Regions from separate parts of the Homo sapiens genome. Here regions 1, 3 and 4 are each reported to be linked to region 2. Evidence: microRNA targets listed by miRTarBase, many of them from high-throughput screens and not tested one by one. Region 2 holds a microRNA gene; each other region holds the end of a gene's coding sequence.
The links. The annotated mature microRNA hsa-miR-5691 reads UUGCUCUGAGCUCCGAGAAAGC and lies in region 2 at 4,862-4,883, shown strand. An mRNA with a match to its seed (bases 2 to 7 or 8) in the 3' UTR can be bound and repressed. Matches are read on the target gene's strand: a 7mer-m8 pairs with bases 2 to 8, a 7mer-A1 pairs with bases 2 to 7 and ends in A, and an 8mer does both.

Region 1: miRTarBase lists CCDC142 as a target of hsa-miR-5691. Seed matches in the 3' UTR shown: 8mer at 2,984-2,991, 7mer-A1 at 3,376-3,382 and 7mer-A1 at 3,749-3,755.
Region 3: the mRNA of CD200 is a reported target of hsa-miR-5691. Seed matches in the 3' UTR shown: 7mer-A1 at 413-419.
Region 4: miRTarBase lists ORC1 as a target of hsa-miR-5691. The part of its 3' UTR that is shown has no 7-base or 8-base seed match.

Annotation. Positions count from the first base shown.
Region 1 is chr2:74,468,792-74,477,103 of GRCh38, reverse strand. CCDC142 (coiled-coil domain containing 142) reads left to right here. Exons shown (of 9, transcript NM_001365575.2): 6 at 1,378-1,492; 7 at 1,702-1,879; 8 at 1,989-2,188; 9 at 2,302-4,272. The coding sequence ends at 2,558. MRPL53 (mitochondrial ribosomal protein L53) reads left to right here and starts at 4,424. Exons shown (of 3, transcript NM_053050.5): 1 at 4,424-4,535; 2 at 4,634-4,746; 3 at 4,852-5,122. The coding sequence starts at 4,444. The coding sequence ends at 4,985. RefSeq lists enhancers at 4,386-4,485, 4,886-5,015.
Region 2 is chr11:9,086,921-9,095,232 of GRCh38, reverse strand. It overlaps MIR5691 (microRNA 5691), which reads left to right and starts at 4,854; the gene lies at 4,854-4,921. SCUBE2 (signal peptide, CUB domain and EGF like domain containing 2) reads left to right here and starts at 3,634. Exons shown (of 23, transcript NM_001367977.2): 1 at 3,634-3,837; 2 at 5,404-5,526. The coding sequence starts at 3,705. It also overlaps the pseudogene KRT8P41.
Region 3 is chr3:112,361,238-112,369,009 of GRCh38, forward strand. It overlaps CD200 (CD200 molecule), which reads left to right. Exons shown (of 6, transcript NM_005944.7): 6 at 306-1,575. The coding sequence ends at 313. Among named protein-coding and RNA genes, the nearest start is that of CD200, 32 kb to the left of the region's middle.
Region 4 is chr1:52,370,659-52,373,658 of GRCh38, reverse strand. It overlaps ORC1 (origin recognition complex subunit 1), which reads left to right. Exons shown (of 17, transcript NM_004153.4): 17 at 284-830. The coding sequence ends at 478. Among named protein-coding and RNA genes, the nearest start is that of CC2D1B, 6.0 kb to the right of the region's middle.

The DNA.
Region 1 (8,312 bases), not on the chromosome of region 2:
TCCTGTTTGGACTATAAGATCCCAGTGGGTGGGGGAGAGACTGTCACACACTCTGCACCTTGTATTCCCTCAGTGTTGAGTACAGAGGCTCCTAACAAAAGTCCGTTGACAAAAGGGCAATTTCCTTGACATAAATAAGGGAGGAGAAGGGGGCTTGCATTTACTGGAGAAGAGAGGAAGATTTTGGATTTAGACAGGTTGTCAGATGTGCCAGGAGCCATATGGGCTCCACTCCATGTCTGGCCGCCCCCAGGTCTATCCTGTCTTCAGGCTCCCTGGCATCTACCATTTCTTTACAGAGCAGCTGCCATTAACCACATTTACTGGGGTTCCTCTCCCTCAAGATGGGCTGTAGAGCAGAAACCAGCTTTATTGCTGTGTTCTCTCCCTCCAAAAACAACCTATCAAACCAAAGAAACAAACCCAGCATATAGGCCTTTTCTTGCTTTATGGGTTATATTGCTCTGGAGTGGGCTGTGAAGAATAATAATATATAATAATGCCTTTCAATGTAAGGACATTCCAAAACTTCCTGAGTCTCAGAACATTCAAATAGTCATTGCTTCTGGTTTACATACAGTTCTTGTCTTCCTTTTGTAGGTGATAACCAAAAGATCATTGTAGGCTGGGTGTAGTGGCTTAGTGGCTCACATCTGTAATCCCAGCACTTTGGCAGGCAGAGGCAGGCCGATCACCTGAGATCAGGAGTTTGAGACCAGCCTGACCAACATGGCAAAACCTTGTCTTTACTAAAAATACAAAAATTAGCTGGGTGTGGTGGTGCACTCCTGTAGTCCCACCTACTTGGGAGCCTGAGGCAGGAGAATCACTTGAACCCGGGAGGCAGAGGTTGCAGTGAGCCGAGATCACGCCACTGCACTCCAGTCTGGGCGACACAGCAAGACTCTGCCTCAAAAATAAAAGGTCGTTGTAATTCCCCTTTCTTCCCTCAATTTCTGCCCATTGCAGATCATACAATCCCTCTTTCTGGCATATGCTCTGTGTGTGTGTGTGTGTGTGTGTGTGTGTGTGTGTGTGTGTGTGTGTGTGTGTGTGTGTTGCGGGGGTGGGGGCAGGGTATGTCTTTCTTTTTCCTTAAAGCTCTTGTATAGTAAAATTAACCTCAAGGATTTTCCATCTTTTGAACCAAGCTGGGGAGAGCAAGGTAATCCTAGGGCAATTGTTCATAATTTGGGTCCAGACCTCTTGGAAAACCCAATGACAACTATGGCATTGCTCCTCAAAAAATGGCCAGGCATACACAACTATGCAACAATTCTGGGGTTTTATGGATGTCAAGTTGGACATAGAGCTCCTTAGATATAGAGGATCATCATAATTTGACAAGCCCCTTTTACTTTCTCCCTATCCCTACAGCTCCTGCCTGAAGAGTCACTAAGTGTCTTTTCTCAAGAATGTCATAAACAAGCCATGCAAGGTTTCAAGCTCTACATGCCACGGGGTCGGTACTGGCGGCTTCGTCTCTGTCCTGGTAACTCCTCATCCCAGCTTCTCCTTCCAGAGTTCCAAGGGGGTAATAGTGTCTCAGCCCTTCCAAATTCCGGTTCCCCTCCACTGTCTCCATCCTTGTCCTCAGCTTCTGTACCCTTCCCTCCTGAAATCCTACCCTCTTCTCCCAAACACTCCATTTAGGGGTTCAATGGATCTCCACAGCCTTATATTCTGTCTTCTCTATTCCAGAACCTCCCAGTGCTCCTAGTGAGTATGCTGGTTTAGTGGTCCGCACCGTACTGGAGCCTGTGTTGCAAGGATTGCAAGGGTTGCCACCTCAAGCCCAGGCCCCTGCCCTTGGTCAGGCTCTGACGGCCATCGTGGGTGCCTGGCTTGACCACATTCTTACCCATGGGATTCGGTTCAGGTCAGGAGTAAAGGTGGAAGTGGCAGGGGGTGAATGGAACTGGGAAAAGGAAGGGGATAAGTGGGAGAGGCAGGAGGGTCAAGTGGCCATACTGTACCTCTGCCTTCAGCCTGCAGGGAGCGCTGCAGCTCAAACAAGACTTTGGAGTGGTCAGGGAGTTGCTGGAAGAGGAGCAGTGGAGCCTGTCCCCTGATCTCCGCCAGACCCTGCTCATGCTCAGCATCTTCCAGCAGCTGGATGGGGCCCTGCTGTGTCTGTTGCAGCAGCCCCTGCCCAAGTCTCAAGTCCACAGGAGGCCCCCCTGTTGCTGTGAGTTACTCCCCTTCGCTCACTGCTTTGTGTGTCCCAAACCCTATTCTCACCATTAATCTGGCTTCAGTATATCCCCAGCAGCCACCTACCTTCCACTCCTGCCTTACCAGGTGCTTGTCAGGAGGTCCAGACCACGAAATTGCCCAGCAGCTGCCTCAATAGCCTGGAGAGCTTGGAGCCCCCGCTCCAGCCTGGAACATCTCCAGCCCAGACAGGTCAGCTGCAAAGCACACTAGGAGGAAGGGGACCTAGCCCGGAGGGCTACCTGGTGGGAAATCAGCAGGCCTGGCTTGCCCTCAGGCAACACCAGCGACCCCGTTGGCACCTGCCGTTTTTTTCCTGCCTGGGAACCAGTCCTGAATCCTAAGGAGCCTGGGACCAGGAGCCAGAAAGTTAAGAGCTCCCCATCTCTAGCTGGAAAATCCAGACATTTGGAATTGCATATTAAGGAAGCCCAGAACTGGAAGCTTGGAGGAAAGCATACTGGAGAATAAGCTACAAAGAGCCTGGGCTTAAGAATCCAAGATTAGGGGCTGGGCGAGGTGGCTCACGCCTGTAATCCAGCACTTTGGGAGACCGAGGCAGGCGGATCATGAGGTCAGGAGATCAAGACCATCCTGGCTAACACGGTGAAACCCTGTTTCCACTAAAAATACAAAAAATTAGCCGGGCGTGGTGGCGGGTGCCTGTAGTCCCAGCTACTCGGGAGGCTGAGGCAGGAGAATGGTGTGAACCTGGGAGGCGGAGCTTGCAGTGAGCTGAGATCCAGCCACAGCACTCCAGCCTGGGTGACAGAGCAAGACTCTGTCTCAAAAAAAAAAAAAAAAAAAATCCAAGATTAGGCAGGGCATGGTGGCTCACACCTATAATCCCAGCACTTTGGGAGGCTGAGGCAGGCGGATCACCTGAGGTCGGGAGTTCCAGACCAGCCTGACCAACATGGAGAAACCCCGTCTCTACTAAAAATACAAAATTAGCCAGGTGTGGTGGCGCATGCCTGTAATCCCAGCTACTCAGGAGGCTGAGGCAGGAGAATCGCTTGAACCTAGGAGGCGAAGGTTGCGGAGAGCCGAGATTGTGCCATTGCACTCCAGCCTGGGCAACAAGGGCAAAACTTCGTCTCAAAAAAAAAAAAAAAAAAAAAAAAAATCCAAGATCACTCCAGCACCTGGAATCCAGAGTAAAGAGCAAGACCATAGCCTGGAACCTGAAGGTCAGACCCTTGGGAGGTTCAGGCCTAGTTCTCCATCACTGAAGATATCTCAGGGATAAAGAGTTGAGTGCTCGGCCAGGTGAGGGGGCTCACGCCTGCTCACGCCTGTAATCCCAGCACTTTGGGAGGCCTAGAGGGGCGGATCACGAGGTCCGATCAAGACCATCCTGGCTAACGCGGTGAAACCCCGCCTCTACTAAAAATACAAAAAATTAGCCGGGCGTGGTGGCACGCGCCTGTAGTCCCAGCTACTCAGGAGGCTGAGGCATGAGAATCGCTTGAACCCGGGAGGCAGAGATTGCAGTGAGCCGAGATCGCGCCACTGCACTCCTGCCTGGGCAACAAGAGCAAAACTTCGTCTCAAAAAAAGAAAACTGGCTAGAATGCACTTCAACTTAAGTCCTGGGAGCTACGCTAATTCATGGAGAACCACAGAGGTTTAATAGGCATTTCTATACCTGGATCAGCCCCAAGGACAGTATTACCCTGTACTGCCCTTCCTATTACTATTTTCAGTCATTTACTAATATTGGGCTGTAGTACTTTCACGTTTAAGCTTTGGCTATTCAGAGCTCACTACGTTTAATCTTCAGTTACCTGAATGGTGTTTACCTTCTGGTGTGGATCATCCCGGCTTGTGTTAGTGCTCTCTCTTTGGAAGAAGCCAGGATTTAAGATCGAGTTAGCCTAGATGTGGCCCAGCAGGGTACAGAAGGGGAAAGGCTGCAGAAAACGGGCGTATTTTCGTGCAAAGAGGTTTTTGCGCCATTTATTTATGGTTTTCACCGTCGTATGAGAGGACTATTCATGATAGGCTGTATTTGCTGACAGCCTACTTTGGGCTCCCCCATGCGTTGTGCCGAAACCACCTCTTTCTTTCCTGCCTTCCTCCGCCTGGGCTAGGAAGCCCAGAGCTGCGGTTCGCAGGCCTGCTAAGCAGCCGGCGGCCGGAAGTCTATCCCGCAGAAGCGCAGCCATTCACGGCCTCACGCAATGCGACACTTCCGCCTGCACGAGTTCTTCCGGGGCGGAGGTCACCATGGCAGCTGCCTTGGCTCGGCTTGGTCTGCGGCCTGTCAAACAGGTTCGGGTTCAGTTCTGTCCCTTCGAGAAAAACGTGGAATCGACGAGGTACGAAGGGGAAGTGGGTAGAAGCGGGAAGTGGTGCGCCTTCCTTCAGCCGGGGCTTTAAGCCCTCAGCTTGGCGCTCCTCTGTTTTTCCACCGTAGGACCTTCCTGCAGACGGTGAGCAGTGAGAAGGTCCGCTCCACTAATCTCAACTGCTCAGTGATTGCGGACGTGAGGCATGACGGCTCCGAGCCCTGCGTGGACGTGCTGTTCGGTGGGCTTGGTGGAGACGGGCAGGAGGGAACAGCGAGCAGCCCGCGCGCCCCTAAGCCCCAGCACTGCGGTCCCTCCCTGTCTCACTCGTTTGTTTCTTCCCCAGGAGACGGGCATCGCCTGATTATGCGCGGCGCTCATCTCACCGCTCTGGAAATGCTCACCGCCTTCGCCTCCCACATCCGGGCCAGGGACGCGGCGGGCAGCGGGGACAAGCCGGGCGCTGATACTGGTCGCTGACAGCGCCAAAGAGACCAACAAGATGATTTTAGCGTGGACTAGGACACTTAACCTAAGAAGAGTTTCACTTAATCATTCAAATCACTATCTGAAGGGTCACGGAGCGCAAAATAAAGTTTAAAACCCTGCTACCACAATGTTTCTGGAACAAGACTAGATCAGAGAGGTGTCTGGATGAACCTGAATTTATTTCACTTTCTTACTATCACTCACTGCTTAACCCTTTTGAATTTGGCTTCTGGCTTCTCCTACCACTCACTCAAGGTACCTCTTTTTTTTTTTTTTTTTTTTTTTTTTTTTTTTTGACTGGTCTGTTTCTGTCGCTCAGGCTGGAGTGCAGTGGCATGATTCTAGCTCACTGTAACCTGGGCTTAGCCGAACCTCCCAAGTAGCTGGGAAGTTGGGACTACAGGCACGCCCCACGCGCCACCACGTTTAGTTAATTTTTAAATTTTTTTGTAGAGAAGGGTTTTCACTATGTTTCCCAGGCTGGTCTTGAAGTTCTGGGCTCAAGTGATCCTCCCACCTTGGCTTCCCAAAGTGTTGGGCGTGAGCTACTGTGCCCAGCCCTCTTACTTTTACCAAATCTTGTGTGAAAGAACACTGATAGGCTGAGCGTGGTGGCTCACATCTGTAATCGCAGCACTTTAGGAGGCCGAGTCAGGCAGATCACCTGCTTGGAGAAACCCCACCTCTACTAGAAAATACAAAAAAATTAGCTGGGTGTGGTGGCACAAGCCTGTAATCCCAGCTACTCGGGAGGCCGAGCGAGGCAAGAGAATCGCTGGAATCCAGGAGGTGAAGGTTGAAGTAGGCTGAGGTCACACCACTGCACTCCAGCCTGAGCAAGAGTGAGACTCTGTCTCAAAAAAAAAAAAAAAACAAAAACACTAACAGAGTGCTGTTTTTTCAGCTCTCATCGTTGTATCCCAGTTCCATCTTTTTTTTTTTTTTTTTTTTTTTTTTAAATAGAGGTGGGGTTTTGTCCTGTTGCACGGGCTGGTCTCTAACTCTTGGACACAAGTGATCCTCCTGCCTCGGCCTCCCAAAGTGCTGGGTTCACAGGCGTGAGCCACCAACGCCTGGCCGCATCTACAACTCTTGTTTTTGAGATAGAGTCTCACTCTGTCACCCAGACTGGAGTGCAGTGGCGTGACCTTGGCTCACTGCAGCCTCCGCCTCCCGGGTTCCAGTGATTCTCCTGCTTCAGCCTCCTGGGTGGCTGGGATTACAGGCATGTGCCACCACGCCTGGCTGATTTTTGTATTTTCAGTAGAGATGGGGCTTTGCCATGTCAGCCAGGCTGTCCTCAAACTCCTGATCCGCCCCCTCGGCTTCCCAAAGTGCTGGGATTACAGGCATGAGCCACTGTGCCCGGCCTGCAACTCTTAATTCACCCATTTGTGGAACTTCTCTCCCTCTTGGGTCCTTTTTCTTTTGAACCACACAGGTGTTCTACCTTCATTCTTTTTCTTCTCTATTTTTTTCTGGGGCATCTCATCCTCTTTCACAACTTGAATTACACCTTCTGGGGTTAAACTATTTCTGTTTGGTTCTAATCCCAACTTCTATGCTATAATCAGGTTACCTGCTACCAATTTCCTCCAAATCCCACCAACTCTCTTTGTATAAAATAGAATTGATAATCTTACATACACATATACTTGCCTCTCTTCCCTGACTTACCCATTCCTTTTTAAAAACAGGCACTTCATCTACTCAGCCACCTGGGCTGGAAACCAGTGTTCTCTAGTTCTGTTCCTTTCCATTCTCTGCATATCTGGTCACTCAGTTCAGAATATTCTGTCTTTTAAAAAAGTGCCTGAAAGTTGGGCAAGGTGGCTCATACTTGTAGTCCCACCTACTCAGAAGGCTGAGACAGGAGGATCCTTTTGAGCCTAAGAGTTCAAGGCTAGAGTGAGCTGTGGTTGCACCACTACACTCTAGCCTGGTGACAGAGCAAGACACTGTCTCAAAAACAAAACAAAACTTCTGAAGTGATCTCTCCATTCCCATTCACTCTATTCATCATTATTGCATTCTGCTACCCAGTCTATTTCCTAAATATTTTTGCTGCCACTTAATTTTATCCTTCCAAAACATGCGATGGGTTTTATCTCTCACTACTCCCTGTTTAAGAAAACAGTGCCGGCCGGGCATGGTGCCTCATGCCTGTAATCCCAGCACTTTGGGATTTGGCCGAGGTGGGTGGATCATGAGGTCAGGAGTTCGAGACCAGCCCAACCAACATGGTGAAACCTCATCTCTTAAAAATACAAAAATTAGCCGGGCGTGGTGGCAGTTGCCTGTAATCCCAGCTACTCAGGAGGCTGAGGCAGGAGAACTGCTTGAACCCAAGAGGTGGAGGTTACAGTGAGCCGATACTGCACCACTGCACTCCAGCCTGGGTGACAGAGCAAGACTCCGTCTCAAAAAAAGAAAAAACATTGCCTAAACTGTTTTTCATACTTCCTCAACACTCATTAGTGTGGACCATGCAATCAATTTAGGGAGTTAAACCATTCTTTTTTTTTTTTTTTAGATAGGGTTTCGCTCTTGTTGCCCAGGCTGGAGTGCAATGGCACAATCTCAGCTCATTGCAACCTCCGCATCCCGGGTTCAAGCAATTCTCCTGCCTCAACCTCACAAGTAGCTGGGATAACAGGCATGCACCACCATGCCTAATTTTGTACTTTTAGTAGAGGGGGTTTCTCCATGTTGGTCAGGCTGGTCTCGAACTCCTGGCCTCAGGTGATCTACCCACCTCGGCCTCCCAAAGTGCTGGTATTACAGGCATGAGCCACCGCACCCAGCCTAAACCATTCTTAAAAAAATAATAATAATAAAATAAAATAAAAAAAGTAGGCCGGGTGGAGTGGCTCATGCCTGTAATCCCAGCACTTTGGGAGGCTTTGGCGGGCAGATCACTTGAGGTTGGGAGTTAGAGACCAGCCAGGCCAATATGATGAAACGCTGTCTCTACTAAAAATAAAAAAATAAAAAATAGCTGGGTGTGGTGGCAGGCACCTGTAATCTCAGCTACTCAGAAGGCTGAGACAGGAGAATCACTTGAACCCAGGAGGTGGAGGCTGCGCTGAGTGGAGATCATGCCACTGCACTCCAGCTCGGTTGATGGAGTGAGACTCTGTCTCAAAAAAAAAAAAAAAGTAGAATAGAATAAAAATTATCAGACTGAGGCTGAGTTTAATGGCTCATGCCTGTAATCCCATCACTTTGAGAGGCCGACGTGGGCGGAATCACCTGAGGTCAGGAGTTCAAGACCAACCTGACCAACATGGTGAAACCCCATCTCTACTAAAAATACAA
Region 2 (8,312 bases):
GCTGTCCATGGACAGCACCACAGATGTGTCCGAGATCTGGGACTGCAGCTCCCAGATTTCCTCTTCATATAGCTGCCTGAGGAAGTTGATCTCGTCAGTCAGCCCTTCCAGAAGAGACTCCAGCTCTACCTTGTTCATGTTAGCTTCAGCCACGTTACCTTCTTGATGAGGACAAATTCATTCTCCATCTCTGTACGCTTATTGATCTCATCCTCATACTTGTTCTTGGAGTCCTCCACCAGCCTCTGCATGTTGCCAAGCTTCAGCTTCTCCTGGCCCAGAGTGTCCAGCTACCGCCGAAGTTTGTTGATGTGGCTCTCGAATATGCTGTCCATGTCGCTCTGAGCTGTCTTCTGCTGCTGCAGGAGGCTCCACTTGGTCTCCAGCATCTTGTTCTGCTGCTCCAGGGACCGCACCTTCTCGATGAAGGAGGCAAACTTGTTGTAGAGGGTCTTGATCTGCTCCTTCTCCTGGGCGCACACAGCCTGGATGTTGGGGTTCACCTCCAGCTTAAGGGGGCTCAGCAGGTTCTGGCTGACCATGATGGCTGTGATGCCCCCCATACCACTGGCCCCACCATAGCCTCCACCCAGAGCCATGCGGGTGCCCAGGCCACCCCGGAAGCTGCTGCTGCCGCCCACTTGAGAGAAGCTCCAGGAGCTGATATGGGCACCAGGCCCGCTTGTGTAGGAGCGGCTGCTTAAGGCCTAGGGGCCAGAGGTGGACACCCTGTAGGACTTCTGGGTCACCCTGATGGACATGGTGGAGGCAGTAGTGGAGGGGTGGGTGGGCTGAACCAGGCAGAGATTCGAGAAAGCAGAGAAGCTTCTTCTAGGTCATGAGCTTCGTTTTGAACATGTTCAATCAGAGGGATCTAGGGAAGATCAAGGTGGGATCTAGGGAAGATCAAGGTGGTATCTAGTAGGCAACTGGATACATGGGATTGAACCAAGGGGATGAATCCAGGCTGGAGATTGACATTATGGAATCAAGGGAATGAGTGAACCATCCAGAGAGAGGGTATAGAAAGAGGACTCCTAGAAGATGGTGGAGAAGGCATTTCCTGAGAGGTAGGAGGAAAACCAGGAGTTTGCCACGATGACAACCAAGGGTAAGGAGAGTTTCCACCAGGGAGAAGTAGTCCACATGTCAGAGGCTGCTGGGGGCGGGGGGGGAGTCAAGAAAGGTGGGCACTGAATGGTGTCCCATGAGTGCAGAGTGGCACCTGCTTATGTGTAGTTCAGGGGCACGCATGGCCGGCCACTACCAGGCTTTCTTCAGCCTCCTCAAAGGCCCACACCAGTGTGACTGGGCTGGCTGGACTGCCTCTTCGCACCCCTGAGGCCTGGTTCATGGCCTCTCAGCCTGTGGAGAGGAGACAGGGAGAGGAAGAGGGAGCTTTAGCCTCAGTCCAGGGACGGTGTCTGAGGCCTTTCTGAGAAGTTTGTGGGGACCTCAGCTGCAGAATAGAGGGCAGCCTGCAGCCAGAGTAGAGCCAACCAAGTTCCTCCTGACACCAAAAACACTGACATTTGGACACAGTTTTCCCCTGGAGCTTCCCCCTGTGGAAATTCCCGGTTGTAAGCCATATTGACTTTAATCTCAAGTGTCAAAAAGGTTGCCCAGGAGTCTGGGAGCCAACAGCTGAAAGCACGTTTGTAAGGATGTCAGCGCAAACAAAATAGGATACAGAACATTTTTTGAGATCTGTGCCAGTGGTGGACTTTTCTGGGAAACATGACAAAAGCTGACAGTCTTAGGCAAAAAGGCGCTGATTCTTGTCATTATTAATTTATGTCCTTACTGAAAGATCAAGTTAGGGAAAGGTAAAGGGGAAGAATAGCACATGTGTGATTTCTTTGCCAGGCACAAGGGCGCTGCAGGAGGCTCCCCCTAGAGTTTAATGGGCAGCTTTATGTATTTATATGCTTTAACTGGAGCTAAAGAGGTCTGTGCCACACAATGGGCAGTTTCTAGTTGGATTTTAAAAGAAATAACTTTGATCATTTCAAAAGCAATGAAGCCTGATGCAGTGGAGAGAAAAGAAGGCAGTAATTTATGGCTACCATTAAGGACACAAAGACAAAGGTGGAGAGAACGTTTCACTAACTGAAGATTTACAAATGTGTAAAAACCACCCTTATGACCAGAAATAGCTGAGTGTCTCTCTCAGCACCAAACAAAAGGGAGTGGGAGGGAGGCGCAGACAGAAAGAGGGACGCAACCTGCCTGCCTTCACTGAAAGGGTCAAAAGAAAAACAACTACAGAAAAGTTATTTTCTCAGATAGCTCCATCAAGCAGCTGCACTAGCCACAGCCCAAAGAGGCAGGCCCCCGTGGGCATGTTCGGGGGCTGGGGTGGCAGACAGTGGGTACTGAGGGTGCAGAGGCTGGGAGCTCTGGGCTGTGGATAGGCCCCAAGAAGACATAAGAGTTTTTGTGCATGAGCTAGGTGGGGATTTTTTGGTGACATCTATTTTTTTTCTGATCTCCAAAGGAATGGTGTGTGTGTGTGTGCGCGCGTGCGTGTGCCTGCATATATACATATGTGTATGTATATAATCGCAGGAGAAAATTGAATAAATACGGAGAAGCTCAGTGAAGAACATTACTATCCCTAAGTGTGATGTTTGGTTGCGTCCGGAAATTGTTACTATATTTGTTCCTGGAGTGATGGTGGGTGTATTGGGCTCCAGCCATCCGTGTCAAGTGTGATATGGGAAGACCCTGTGTACCTGTTCCCTTGCAAGGACTGTCTTTCATGGAAGGCTAGGTGCTAGGCCCTGCCTGTGTTTGAAGCTAGCCAGACCTGATGTTTATGAGTTCAGGTGATCGTAAATGCCACCTGTACTCCGGCAAAGTCGGGGCTGCTGTCTGTTGTCTCTGGTGGCTCACCTTTGACCTCTAGCCCCCTTCCCCTTAGGCTGCCCTGAGATATACATAAGTAGCTTGCAGGGATTCTAGGCCCAGTGTGCCCCACAGTGGGACAAGTGGACCAGTGCCCTCAGGGCTGTGGGATGGAGGATCCCAGAGGGCCTGGGGTGGGCAGTGTGGAGAAGGGTGCAGAGGGTGTGCTGGGGTGGGCAGAGAAGCCAGGGTCACCTTCTCCATTCAAACAGCTGTTTTCCCGAATTGGAAGTCACCCCCAATTCCTTCCACTCCCACCTCCCACCTCCCACGTGGAAAGCCCCAAGATGGCTTTGGGGTTTGGGGACTATACGGAACACTTTCTGGGCGCCCTGACCCCGAATATTTCAATCTAGAAGGGCTGTTTGTCCTCACATGAGGGCCTGGGTCGAGTTGTAACACACTGGAACAGGCGCGGCACCGAGGGCTCCGAGCGTTGGAGCGGAGCGGGGATGCGGGGGGCAGCGGGCTGGGTGCCAGGGCTGCGCGGGGCGCGAGGCACGGTGCTGCCGCCCCGCCAGGCTGACAGCCGCGCTCGGGCCACCGCGGCCGCGCCCCCTCCACCCGAGGCCGGGGAGGGGACGGGAGGAGGCCGGGCGGGGCGGCACTGCTCCCGCCTGCGCTTCCCGCCCCGGCCCGGGAGGGACCGTGTGAAAATGAGGCCGGGGCTCGGGGGGCGGGCGGGGCCGGGCCGGGGGTGGCAGCGGCAGCGGGCAGGGCGTCCGCGCACACCTCCCCGCGCCGCCGCCGCCACCGCCCGCACTCCGCCGCCTCTGCCCGCAACCGCTGAGCCATCCATGGGGGTCGCGGGCCGCAACCGTCCCGGGGCGGCCTGGGCGGTGCTGCTGCTGCTGCTGCTGCTGCCGCCACTGCTGCTGCTGGCGGGGGCCGTCCCGCCGGGTCGGGGCCGTGCCGCGGGGCCGCAGGAGGGTGAGTGTCCGGCCGCGGGGGCGCACCTGGCACAGCAGGCAGGGCCAGGAAGAGTGTTTAGGTCCCCGGCGGAGTCCAGAGCCGGGCGCGCGGGGCTCGGGGCTGGCGGCTGCAGCTCCGCGGGGGCCTCTGCTCCCCCCGGGACCTCACCCGCCGGCCGGGCCAAGGCGCCACGACCGCTGGGGCCCTGAGTCCTTCGGCCCGGCCTCGGACCCGGAGCTGCTGACGGTTCCCGCCCCGGTCCGGATGCCTCCAGAGCGCCTGCTAGTCAGACCGTCGCCGGCGAGCAGGCAGGAGGGTGCGGACCCTGGCCTTGGGGTCCCGCGCCTCAGCGTAGGCGGGGAAACTGAGGGCCGGGCCGGGCACATCCGCGAGGCGGTGGCAGCTTTGCCGTTTCTTTCTTTGGGGGCCGGCAAGTTCTGCTGATGGCTTCGGGGTGGGCTCCAGAGACTTTTCTGTCAGCGGAACAGCGCCTGTTCCGATCTGGGAATTACCCTGAAGCAGCAACAAGCCTAGGTTTTCAGCAGAGAACTTTGGTTTCCAGAGAGGACTCTGGACGTGCTGTGCTTACTGGACTTGCAATACTTTCAAAATGCTTTTGTTTTTAATTAATATCCTGGAGTAGTGTCAACCCAGGAAATACTTCTGCCAAGGCGGGTTTCCAGGTTGAGAGGATGGGCAGGGGTGGGAGTGCAGGGGGCCGGCCATGGGGACACCATCCCCGCTTCGCAGCATCTGAGAGCCCTGGATGACATCTGCTCCGATCCCGGGGCAGACTTCCCATAAATACTCTAAACCAGCGGGGTGCAATCTTTTGGCTTACCTGGGCCACAGTGGAAGAAGAAGAATTGGGCCACACATAAAATATACCAACACAAACGACAGCTGATGAGCAAAAAAAAAAAATAAATAAATAAATAAAAAAAAAATCTCATAATGTTTTAAGAAAGTTTATGAATTTGCATTGGGCCGCATTCAAAACTGTCCTGGGCTGCACGTAGCCCACGGGCTGTGTTGGACAAGCTTGCTCTGAGCTCCGAGAAAGCTGACAGACAGCTGCTTGGTGTTCAGAGCTTGTCTGTCCGTTTGGTCCTTTCCTCCTTTAGCGGGCATGTAGGTACTATTGCCTACTCACATGCCAGGTACTGCGCTGGCTTGGCATAAGGGACACAGACGCAGTCTGTTGTCAAGACATTGTCTAGTGGAGAGAGAGGAAGGAAAACAGTGACAACCCTGCCTGATGTGTGCATGCAAAGCCATACATATGCGAGCACTTGGTGAGGGCAGCTACAATGGGGGTCATGGCAGGCTTCCTGGAGGAGGTGGATTTGAGCTAAGTCCTGAAGGCCAGTAGGTGATGGTGGGGGTAATTTCACGTAGAGTGTCCGGGCTGTTCCTGGAAACAGGGACCCAGAAACAGTTTGGTTTATCCCAGGGATCCCAAGCAGCTGTAGCTTGTGAGGAGTGAAGCGGGGTGGGCTGGTGAGGATGATGCCAGACAGGGCCGAGGCCAGATCACACATGGCCTGGGAGCCTGTACCAGGTGTCAGCTGTGCTCTTTTGCAGATGTAGATGAGTGTGCCCAAGGGCTAGATGACTGCCATGCCGACGCCCTGTGTCAGAACACACCCACCTCCTACAAGTGCTCCTGCAAGCCTGGCTACCAAGGGGAAGGCAGGCAGTGTGAGGGTAAGTGCCTTGGGGACCATGTGGGGGGACTGTAGGGAAGCTCCTACCTCCTTAGCTCTTGCAGTGGCCACTTATGTTGGTAAAAGTACTGCCCCTCCTCTCCCTTTCCCCCAGCCCCTGAATCACATCACCTGCTCTCTGAAATATATTTCAGATCTTGGACTGGAAACATTAGGTCTTCCCCAGAGCTGCTCACACAGTTTTATCTGGCTCTGAAATGTCCTTTTGTCTAGCTTCTGGAAAAGAAAAGAGATGTGTTAGTATCTTTGGGTCCCACTCAGTTTTGGGGCAGAAAGTAAACATCCATGCTGATCAGGAGAGCCATGCCTGCCAGAGCAGGGCTGATCCTGCACCTCCCTGGGGCGGTTTGTACCTTTGCCCTGAAGTCTGAGTGCTAGAGAGTCCTGCCCTCCCCTACCAGCTCAGGAGGCTCCATCCTGTTTATGGCTTTGGCCACAATGTTTGGCATTGTGACGTGCCAAGCTTCAGAGTACACCAAGGACCTTCCTCGTTTGGAGTTACAGGTTCACTCTGGAGAGATGTGTGCAGAGGGGCATTTTAGCCCATAGAGCTGCAGGTCTGAGAACCTGTGGTTTGGACTCTGCCATTTTATAATCTGGACTAGAGTCATGAACTGTGAAGTTCATAGCTGGCCAGAGACTGGACACTCGAGGCTGTTCCTGGAGATGGAAATCATGACACATTGGAGCTGACTGGGCTATTCAGGTAGCTCTGGGCCAATGCTATTACTCATTTCACAGATGGGGACACTGAGGGCCAGAGGAGTTGTGGCCATGATCACACAAGTTGCCTGCAAGTGAAAGAAAGTCAGGTCTCCACCCCTAGCTCTGTCCCCAACCCCACGTTTCTCATATTTACTCAGCCTGCTGCTGTCCTTCTTTGGATGAGTGAGAAATCCCACTGTCTATAGTCATCCCTTGCAGGAAGAAATTAGATGAGGAGCACTGAACTCATCTCTGAGTATCCCTCCTTGCTCCTGGACCCAACCTTGACAAGTATGTTGGTGGCCCCTTCCTCTTCGAGAGGTTTTAAACTCTTTAGAACTTGGGCTTAACTCCCATGGGAATTGATCTTCTGAATACTTGCAGGATCTAAAGCTACACAATGAGTAAGAAAGTCCTTCCAAGTCTCTTTCCACTTCGAAAAACATATTAACTTCTTTAGATGAGGAGGAAAACTTTTTTGAGACAGAGCTTTGCTCTTGTTACCCAGGCTGGAGTGCAATGGCGCGATCTCAGCTCACTGAAGCCTCCTCATCCCCGGCCAGGAGTGTGAGACCAAGCAATTCTCCTGCCTCAGCCTCCCAAGTAGCTGGGATTACAGGCGCCTGCCACCATGTCCAGCTAATTTTTGTATTTTTAGGACAGACGGGGTTTCACCATGTTGGCCAGGCTGGTCTCAAACTCCTGACCTCAGGTGATCCACTGGCCTCGGCCTCCCGAAGTGTTGGGATTACAGGCATGAGCCACTATGCCCACCCAGAGGAGGAAAACTTTTAATGAGTGTCTATTCTGGTGCCATTTAATGGCCTAGTGTCCAGACCCTGATGTTTCAAACCAATCTGTTTCATACTGTGGCCTCTGAGTAATAAAGATTCTAAATATTGGAACAGTATATAATGCTCAGCAGTGCCTGGTACATGGTAGACACTGAATAGACATCCTTATTTTTGAATAAGTGATTGTGTAAGATGGGCTCAGTCTACTAGCACCTTGACACAAAGTCTTTTCCAACAAACAGACAAACCCACAAATGAAATATCTAGATACAGAATATACAGATGACCAAGTAGGTAAGTGACTGTCAGATGCTTTTGCAGTGTTGTAGCAATGACCTGATCCTCCCTATCCACCCATCTCCTTGTCTTAGCATAGCTGAGACAAGAAATGGGATCTTTACAATGAACTTTGTTACAAAGGAAGGGAAGACCAAAAGAAAATATAGACAGCAAATATGAATAACAGATGGGATTATGACGGGCAAGTTTGGATCTGGTGACACCCCTTGGGATATCATTCAGGGAGCTCCCCTTTGTGCATGAGGAGTGAGGCTCCCACCGCTCCCATTGGAGAAGGTGTGGTCCTGGTCAGGTGCATAGCAAGTGGGGTTGGTGATCCATCCATGAAGTAGCTCACGCTCTCTCTCTCTTTCTCTCTCTCTTCCCCCCTCCCCCTGCCATGTCATGGGAGGCCAAAAGGCTATCTCTCCCCAGAACATTTATCTGCTGATTCCTCCATACCACACACTTTCGGTATTAAATATTCTATTTGCTGTACTGGAATTCACACATGTTGGTACCCTGCTTTGGAAACAAATGTTCACTTCTTTACTATGTGGATAACTCACGTCCTCCAGTTGCTGTGTGCTCTCTGGTGGCACAAAACCATTCCACTGACTTTATTTAGATAAAGTACACTTTTAGTAAATGATGTTAAATGACAATTGGCAAGAGTTTCCTTACTCTTGGCTTTTGAGTTTGATATATTTCAAATGAAATTGAATTGCTAACAGTTTATAGTTGAATTGTTAAAAGTCTATTATTTAGTTTAAAATAACTAATGATTGACTGGCATTGTGCCATATATATATATAAATTTATTTTAAAATGATATGTGATTGTTATAAAAAGTCAAATAATACAAAATGTGTAAAATAAAAAATTAAAGAGCCTCCCATCCATTTATCCACAGATAGTCATGGTTAACAGTGAGCATACATCCTTTGTACTGTCGTTTGGAACTCAAACCCTAGAAGAATTTGATCTT
Region 3 (7,772 bases), not on the chromosome of region 2:
GTCTTACTATGTTGCCCAGACTGGTCTTGAACTTCTGGGCTCAAATGATCCTCCCGCCTCGGCCTCCTAAAACACTGGGCTTACAGCCACAAGCCACTGCATCCAGCCTACTTTTGTTCTTGTAAAGAGTCATAGTCCCCTCACACCATACTGGGTCAGAAATGTCTACTTCTTTATCTTTGCCAATGAATATACACTAGAATAACTCTGTGTTTCTTAATCTCTCTATTATTTATCTTCTTAAAATGTATTATGATAGAATTTACAAGTGTCCAAAGTTAATACCTTGTTTTTCTTTTATCCAGAGCCCTAAATAAGTCACACAGCACCCTGAAAGTGATTCCCTGGTCTACTTGAATTTGACACAAGAGAAAAGCAGGAGGAAAAGGGGCCATTCTCCAAAGGACCTGAAAGAGCAAAAGAGGTGGGAGCGAAAGCCTTAAGGATCCCACGACTTTTTACTGCCATCTGAGCTACTCAGTGTTTGAATCCCAAGAGGAAGTCAGTTTACCTCTCAGGTCTGTTGTAGGACTTGATTTTGTAAAGCAATGCCATGTTATGTGGTTGAAAGGGCACTGGACTTAGTTAGTATCAGGAGCACTGAGCTCACAGACTGACTTGGGCTCCTACTGGTGGGGACCTCTGTTAGTCACTTTACCTCATCCAAAGTATAAAGGAATTGGACCAAATAATTTACCACATAGCTCTAAAACTTAATTTAAAATGTAATTCCAGAAAAAAAAAGGGAATAAGCAAAGGGGGAAGAATTGAAAGAGAGAGAGAAGAAAGAATACAGAGAGCTTACCTTTTGCCTTTCTGTTGATGTTACATCTCTTCTTCCTATGTTCTTAGGTCTATGAGTCTGTTTCCCCATCATTTGGTATCTAGTCCAGTTCCTGCTTACTGCTTTGCTAATAGCTGGCCTTGCTAGAATCCTTGGTTTCACTGCTGTTCTTCATGTGCTTCTATGAGATTTACTCCAACACAAATAGGACTGAATTTATTGTGAAGTAACATTGGCAATCTTAACTTATTCATTTAACTTATTTTTATAGCTAGATAAATATTGTTAGTCTTAGACAATAGCTCACATTTTTTGAGAAGCATGCCCTCCCTGTCCATTTGTCTTATAACATGACCCAGCCCTATTTTACGTCATTCTAAATTCAGCCTCATATAATGAAAATACATTATGAAAACAGATGTTTAGGAGATTTCCTGTATAGCAGTCAGCCAATTCATATGCTTTGTCTCTGCTGGCTTCTTTTTCCATGCGTTAACTTTTCCCAATAGCAGAGGAGGCAAATATGAGCATACAATCCCTTTGTTCTAAAGATATTGTTCCAGCTAGTGGAATGATGTTGAATCTTTAATAACCATAATTAGTTGCTTTTTCAGTATCTTCTGCTTTGTCTGTGTCTATCCAGTGGCCTAGGAATTAAAGTGTAAGTTGTTTTCGCTGTTAAATTGGATATTTATATATATATATAGCAAGATTTTCATGTGTTATTTAATTCTGTATTGTTTCTTATATTTGTAGTAAAATATTGAACAATTAAAAGTGTTGACTCCAAATATTTGGCTTATGATATTCTCTTGGGAAATGTGGAAATGAATGATAATCCTTGTCTTTTCCCATCATATGTAAAACCCTCCCCTCCTCTCTATCTTTCCCCTCCTAAAAGATGAGCTGGGCTGGGCGCGGTGGCTCAAGCCTGCAATCCCAGTACTTTGGGAGGCCGAGGCGGGCGGATCTCGAGGTCAGGAGATCGAGACCATCCTGGCTAACACGGTGAAACCCCGTCTCTACTAAAAATACAAAAAATTAGCCGGGCGCCTATAGTCCCAGCTACTCGGGAGGCTGAGGCAGGAGAATGGCGTGAACCCAGGAGGCGGAGCTTGCAGTGAGCCGAGATAGCGCCACTGCACTCCAGCCTGGGCAACAGAGCGAGACTCGGTCTCAAAAAAAAAAAAAAAAAAAAAAAGATAAGCTGGTGTTTCTGACTAATCACAAAAACACAAATCAGATGTCTGGCCGGTGTGAGCTCCTTTGAGTTGGTGCCTATGTCCTTTTGACATGACCCTGTCAGTTCTGCAGCACTTCTTTATATGTGTTCTTTTGATTTTGCTTTTAGATACCAACCTTTGCAGACAGATTAGCTCACATAGTTTTGAATTTAGTGGGAACCAACCCCTTGTATTTTGCTGTATTTCTAGTATCTCTGCTAAATTGGTACTAGATCAGGCAGGATGACTTAATGCAACAGTTCTTAAACATTTTGGTCTTAGGACCCCTTTATGCATTTGAAAACATCATTGAGGATCCCAAAGAGCTTTTTCTGTAATGTGAATTATATCTGTTGATATTTATCATATTTGAAATTAAAACTGATAAAATTTAAATACAAAAATGTGTAACCATATATCCTATTAGCCATCAGAGTGATGCCAACATCAAACATCATATAGCTTCTGGAAGACTTCAGAGCACATTTATTAGAGAATGAGAGTGAAAAAGTCAAATAATTTATTGGTGTTATCATGACAATAATTTTTTGATTATGTGGACCCCCTGAGATGGTCTTAGGGACAATGCTAAAGACTACTGTTTTAAAGTATTGGCAAAGAAGAAAACCACCTTATGGGAAGATTTCATGAGTCTTTCTCAAAGGAACTCCTTGCTAAACATCTATCTTCATGGTACCTAAGCATTTCACCTTTTAACCAGGACTTTAGGCCATTGTATTACTGGGAGCTCCTCCTCAAAATGCAGAGAAAGCTCAAAGACTAATTTTTATCTATTGTTAATAATTCAATTTAAATTGGCTTATTAAATGGCTTTTCAGTTACTTTTCAGGATGTTGAGATACTTGGACTTAGGATAGGTATGTTTTATGGGGAAGACTTGGGAGGTTATAGAGAAATAAAGGGGAGAAGGAAAGGGTAATTGAGAGCATGCCTCTCTGCTGAGAAGGTGGCTCCATGTGGAACACCACAGCCTTGCTTTCTCCTCTATGTCTCCTGCCCTCTCACCCTGGCTGGCTGCTCACCAACCCTTCCATACTTATCCTAAACTTTCAACTATGGGTGCTTTTTTGTATTTGTGAATTAGAAAGAGGTAGCTTGGGCTTTGCATATTTAAGCAGATTGGGAAAGTTGTAAACTTTTGAGTCCCTTAGAATAACTCAGTCATGTATTTCTCTTCTTAGTAAAAATTCAGAAAAATTCCAGAGTAGTGCAAACCTGCTTAGAGAGAGGAGAAAACAGAAGAAGACTGTTGTGTTTAACTGAAACTGAAACTGCAAATGAAGGGGTTTTTTTGTCATTTTATGTTTTCTTTTTGGTTTGTATTCCTCAATCCGTGCCTTGATAACAATTCATAAATCTAGGTTCAAAGAGTACAAAATCCATATTACTACTAGGAATCATAAGGCTTTGATTAAAATAATTTTTTTGAACTTTCTTCTATGGCTATTCTGAGCTCAGAAAGAGTATTTTATTTAATTTTTGTTGTAGAGACAGGGTCTCACTGTGTCACCCAGGCTGGAGTGCAGTGGTGCCATCATAGCTCACTGCAGCCTTGAAATCCTGGGTTCAAGCGATCCTCCTGCCTCATACTCCTGAGTAGCTAGGACTACAGGCACACATCACCATGCCTAGCTAACTTTTTATTTTTTGTTGAGATAAGGTCTCACTATGATGCCCAGGCTTGTCTCAAATTCCTGGCTTCAAGAAATCCTCCTGTCTGGGATTAAAGAGGTGAGTGACTTTGCTCGGCCTTTGCCTTTTAAAATAAAGCTTCTTAAATTATTTCTTCACAGCGGTGATATTTTTATTTTTTGTTTGTTCTCAAAATATTCCAGATTTGATTTCATCCTTCCCTCCACAGTTGCTCAGGCTAATAATTCACTTGCACAAAGTCACATAGAGCAGTGACTCAATCCAAGCAAACCAACATTTACACAGATGTCATAATCATTTGTCTTGTGAGGTCCTGAAGGTAATTAACCCCATTTTTGTAGGTGTGAAAAATCATACTTTTCAGTGACTTCATACTTTTCAGTGACTTTCATACTTTTCAGCGACTTTCTTCCAGTAGCATTGTAAATGTGTTTTTGGCCAAAACTCCAACTCAGAAATCCCAGCTTCCTGTCTAGTGAACTCTCTTTTCTGCCCACCCTGCAGTGATTTATCTCAATCTTACTTGCCAGCGTAACCTATTTGTTCTGTACTTATATTCAGAATCCAGCTCCTACCTCCATTCTTACACCTGACCCAAACCATTATTATTTGTTTCCTAGATCATTGTTATTGCTTTCTAATTAATCTTCATGCTTCCGTGTTCTTCCTCTTTCAGTCTATTCGAAACATAACTGTTCTAAAATATGTCAAGTCAAATCACATAATTCTCCTGCCTAAAATTTCCAAGTGCTTCCCATCTCACCTAGAATACAAGCCAAAGTCTTTACGTGGGCTATAAGGCTCTAGACAATGGGCTCACTGATAATCTCTGAAGTCACCTCCTACTCTCTCTCCTGATCACTAGTCTGCCGGCTATTTCACCAACATTTCAGACATGTTTCCATCTCAGAGCCTTGGCATTTCCTCTTCTCTCTGCCTGGAATGTTCTTTCTGCAGGTACCTGCATGGCTCATATGACTTTTCCCCTGAAAAACACTCCATAGATACCCCAAAGATACTTTAATACTTTTAACCGGACTCATATTAGTCTAGATAGTGGGACACTTATCTCAGAAATTTGAAACTCAAAAAGAGAGAGAGTTGTGTGTTTCTAGGAGTAGCTTTTATGTTCCAGTGCAGTTACAGAGGCACTGAAGCCCAGCTGCTCAGGTGAAGCATTTCAATTACCACATGATTCTGGATCTGGTTGTGTTTAGCTCAGTAACTTGTATACATGTTAGTTTATTTTCTAATAAATCAGAGACAATATTGCAAATACATTCAGCCCTCCCTATCTGTGGGTTCCACATTTGTGGAGTCAACCAATCACGGATAAAAAATATCTGAAAAAAAAAACAAGAATAAAAATAATACAAATTTAAAAACAATACAGTATAACAACTATTTGTATAATATTTACATTGTAATAGGTTTATAAGTAATCTAGAGATGATTTAAAGTATGTGGGAAAATGTGCATAGGTGATATGAATATACTATGCCCTTTTATATTAGGAACTTGAGCATCTGCAGATTTAGGTATCCATGGAGGTCCTGGAACCAATCTCCTGAGGAAACCGCTCAGCAGAGAAAACCATTTCCTAAGTTTATATATCTATATTCAGGACCTGAGAGCTTACCAAAACTTTCCTGAATCGCTTTACCTTATGTGAGGTTCAGTGTTCCCATCACTGGTGTTTGATGTCCCTCCAACTACTTTGGCAGTGAGAAGGTACTCATCCTGTTTGAGAGATAATATGCACAGTTTTGAGGTTACACTTTATTCTGGAGAATCCCTTTTCCATTGCATAGATTTCCCTTGGCTAGAGTTGTTTTGTTTTCAACAGCATGTTTTTTAGCTTTGGATCTTGAGGAGAGAGAGCAGGAGAGCCAATAAACAAGTCTGGGGAGGGGAACGTTTCCAGATACGTCAGGTTAAAAATAACAAACCAAAAACCATGAACCACTCATTACAAAGCCAGATTTGAATGAATTTCCATTCACTCTCATGAAGTTTCAAAAGCTAAATATATTGGAGAGAACATTTCAACAGTGGTGAAAAGATGAAAAGAAAGAAAACAAGTAACTTTACATGATTGGATCACCATTTTTGTTTCATTTATTTAACCAAGAGATGGAATAGAGGTGCTGATATTATTAGGTGAAGGTTGTGATAATTTTATACCAAATAAATATATAATTTTCTTGTCATAAACTTTATGTTTTAATGAGTGGTTTTCATTAGAAAGTGACACTGCATTTCTCATCATTAGATTATGTGTTTCTGCCAGTAGCAGTTATGTTGATCAGAACAACAGCATGTGTCTCACAATAGATAGCATTTATCAAGCACCATTTTAGGCATCTCACTGTACTGGGTCCTGAGAGGTATTTGCAGAGGAAGACACTACTAAAAATCCTGGTTCTGAAGAAATTAAATATTTAATAAAGGACGAAATAAATCTACCTGCATGTATTATTTAGAAATGACTTGTGGAAATTCATGAAGTACTATCATGAATAGAAAATGAAATTCAGAAATATGTTATTTGTTGTTTTCTTCTTTCTCTTCCTTCTTTCCTTTCCTTCTTTTTTCTTTTTTCTCTTTCTTTCTTTCTTTTTCTTTCTTTCTTTCCCTTTCTTACAGAGCCTCACTCTTGTTGCCCAGGCTGCAGTGCAGTGGCACGATCTTGGCTCACTGAAACCTCTGTCTCCCAGGTTCAAGTGATTCTCCTGCCTCAGCCTTCCGAGTAGTCGGGATTACAGGCGTGTGCCACCACACCCAGCTAATTTTTGTATTTTCAGTAGAGACGGGGTTTTGCCATGTCGGCCAGGCTGGTCTTGAACTCCTGACCTCAAGTGATCCACCTGCCTCGGCCTCCCAAAGTGCTGGGATTACAGGTGTGAGCCACTGTGCCCAGCCAGAAATATGTTTATTATAATTCAATTTATATTTTGATTCTACATAATTACAGATGTAATGCTATGATATTTTGGGTATGGATGATAGGGAATAAAATTGGCATACATCGATCGTTGTTGAAATTGATGCCTTTATATTCTCCTCTTTATTTTGGTGTATGTTTGAAAATCTTATAATCCAAAGTTTAAAAAATACTCATATCTTACTTTGCTAAGCAAGAACACTAGTATCTCCTTTTTTTTCACAATATATTCAACTCTGCCACATTTTCATCTGGTTTCCAAATAAAATTTTTTCTCAACAACCTTGAATTCCATTACTATAGACTTCTATCAATGAAAACAGAATGCCAAACACTCTGCACTCAATCATTCATCAAAGCATGGGTGTTAAAATGAGTATACAACCATTCTCTTGAGAAGTATCATAGTAGGAAAGAGCTGACAGAAAGTCCGTGTACTGATGCAGTTTGGGTAAGCAAACAGAATATACTTTTGGATTTAGAAAAAAAATAAGTGTGGCCAGGATACATAGCACAGAGGTTTCCAATAGTTTCTCTTACCAGTTGGTGTGACTCTCTTGACCACCAATGATTTATCAGAGGATACACTATTGCAGACAATCAAGTTGAAATGATACTCTCTTCACACCTCTGGCAGCATCACTTCTTCCTCTATGACCAGACTATTCCTGCTCATGGCTTGAACTGGATGCAGGTGGGAGGTCACCCATCTGCGCAGGTGCCTCATAATTTCTGGAGTTATGCTACTTACCACATAATTGCAAAACTTTTAACACATATTTTATTTATCATCCTTAGGAACTCCAAGCCATTATAGCCAGTTCCTGACACATTTTCAAATTCAGTACTGTTAAATCAGACATAGTAGTCATTCCTTTACACTCACTCCTGGCCTCATTTGACAGTGATCCTAAGGGACAATTGACTGAAAACACAAAATCCATTTAATTGGCATTTATTCTTGAACCACATGATCTTAGCCCATTACGAAATTGCTTATACTCCTTGCATTTCTGGAACAATGCTACAAGAAGCATTTTCAGGCATTGTCAATGTATTTGCTGAAAAATGATTCTGAAGTTAAAGTACGTTATACTTCTTAGTGTTCCAAGTGAAAACCAATACTAGAAAAACTACTTTCCTGAAG
Region 4 (3,000 bases), not on the chromosome of region 2:
ATAGATAAAATTGAAGCTCAAAAGAGTGCAGTAACTTGGCCAGGTCTACATATTTAGGTAAATGGTAGCACCAGGATTCGGGCCTGCTGTTTTCTGATTCCAAGGCTAGCATTCCATTCTGCCTCTGCATTTTGTGTACCACTGGGGCACCAACTGATGCCTTCTGGAGTGTTTGATATCCTGGGGGCCATGTGTCTGATTTTCCCAAATGAAGAAAGAAAGGAACAGAAAAAGCCCCAGGATTGTATTTCCTCTTAACCTTTGCCTTGCTATTTGTGTCTAGATATATAGTCAACATGTGGCACTGTGCAGAATGGAGGGACTGCCGTACCCCACCATGTCAGAGACCATGGCCGTGTGTTCTCACCTGGGCTCCTGTCGCCTCCTGCTTGTGGAGCCCAGCAGGAACGATCTGCTCCTTCGGGTGCGGCTCAACGTCAGCCAGGATGATGTGCTGTATGCGCTGAAAGACGAGTAAAGGGGCTTCACAAGTTAAAAGACTGGGGTCTTGCTGGGTTTTGTTTTTTGAGACAGGGTCTTGCTCTGTCGCCCAGGCTGGAGTGCAGTGGCACGATCATGGCTCACTGCAGCCTTGACTTCTCAGGCTTAGGTGACCCCCCAACCTCATCCTCCCAGGTGGCTGAAACTACAGGCACATGCCACCATGCCCAGCTGATTTTTTGTAGAGACAGGGCTTCACCATGTTGCCAAGCTAGTCTACAAAGCATCTGATTTTGGAAGTACATGGAATTGTTGTAACAAAGTATATTGAATGGAAATGGCTCTCATGTATTTTGGAATTTTCCATTAAATAATTTGCTTTTTCCTGAGTGTTTGTGAAGTTATTACATTATAATCATTACAAACATCTGATTATGAAACCAAACTGTCCTTCCTACAATAGTCCTTCCATGTGACTTTTATTTCTGTTACTAGGCCTGCCATTTATTTAATGCTAACATATATAAAATATAAGTACACGATTTACTTGTATCTATATAAAATAGTTCTGGGAGAGTATGCAAAAAACTGGTTACACTGATTACCTCTGGAAAGAATCAGATGGAAAGAATCAGATGGCCAGGGTTAGGGGTTAGAGGAGGACTTTTCACTGTATGTCATTATCTGTCTTAAGTTTCAAATAATATAAATAAAATTTAGGCCAGGGGCGGTGGCTCACACCTGTAATCCCAGCACTTTGGGAGGCCGAGGCAGGTGGATCAGGAGATCGAGACCATCCTGGCTAACACGGTGAAACCCTGTCTCTACTAAAAATACAAAAAAATTAGCCAGTTGTGGTGGCGGGCGCCTGTAGTCCAGCTACTCGGGAGGCTGAGGCAGGAGAGTGGCATGAACCCGGGAGGCGGAGCTTGCAGTGAGCTGAGATCGCGCCACTGCACTCCAGCCTGAGCGACAGAGTGAAACTCCGTCTCAAAAATAAATAAATAAATAAATAAATAAAATATAGTTTATAAAAAAGGAACTACTGGAAATAATATAAATCATAAGTAATCTCTAGCCACAAATAGCTAGAAAGTGTAATTTTTACAAAGGTACCATTTACCATAAAAACAAAACAAACCTTTAAATACAAAAGATTTATATGTCACAGAAAATATAAGGTACTTAGAAATAAATTGATTTAAATATTTATTTATTTATTTATTTTTTCCCTCTGTCACCAAGGCTGGAATGCAGTAATGGATCATAGCTCACTCCAGCCTTAACCTCCTGGGTTCAAGTAATCCTGCCTCAGCCTCCTAAGTAGCTGGGATTCCAGGTGTGGGCCACCATGTCCGTCTCCTAGGAATAAGTCTAATAAAGAGATGCAAGTAATCTCTAGATAGAAATCAATTCCAATCAAAATCTTGGCAAGGTTTCTTGTATGACTTTGCAGTTAATTCTAATATTTATATGGAAACCAACAACAGGCAATGAACATCTAAAACCTCATGAAGTACTGAGGCTGGGCGTGGGTGGCTCATGCCGGTAATCCCAACACTTTGGGAGGCCAAGGCGGGTGGATCACCTGAGGTCAGGAGTTCGAGACCAGCCTGATCAATATGGTGAAATCTCGTTTCTACTAAAAATGCAAAAATTAGTCTGGCGTGGTGGTGTCACCTGTAGTCCCAGCTACTTGGGAGTCAGGAGAATTGCTTGAACCCACCCAGGAGGCAGAGGTTGCAGTGAGCTGAGATCACACCATTGCACTCCAGCCTGGGCGACAGAGCAAGACTCCGTCTGAAAAAAATAAATAAAACCTAATATGAGGTACTGAAAAAAAACAGCCCCACCCGTGTACTAGTCCTGTCAGAAATGCTTGTCCTAAATTTACTGATGAGAAAATTATCAGACAAATCTAAATTTAGGGAGAAACTCTGCAAAGCAGCTGTTCAACTCATTGAAAATACTAATATCACAAGAAAAAAAACACAAAACATGGAGGAACTATTCTACACCAAAGGAGAATAGAGACATGAGAGCTAAATGCACTATATAAACCTTGACTGGGTCCTGGATTTAGGAAATATAAACAATTATAAACATTATTAACTATGTATTAGACAGAAGTATTTTGTAAGTGTTAAATTCCCCGAGCGTGATAAATTTGTGATTATGTAGGAGAATGCTGTTCTTAGGAGATTCATAATGAAATATTTATAAGTGATGTATTATGTCTGCAACTCATTCTCAAATCATTTAGCAAAAATATGTATTTCTATATTCACATATGTATTTATAATTACATATAATGGATTGAGGATCAATATCAATATTTTTAAAACTGCAATGAAAAAGAAAAAATGAGCCAGGCACAGTGGTTCATACCTGTAATCCCAGCATTTTGGGAGGCCAAGGCAGGTAGATCACCTGAGGTCAGGAATTCGAGACCAGCTCGGCCAACATGGTGAAGCCCCATCTCTACTAAAAATACAAAAATTAGCCAGGGGTGATGGTGTGCACCTGTAATCTCAGCTACAGGGGTGCTGAGGCAAAAGA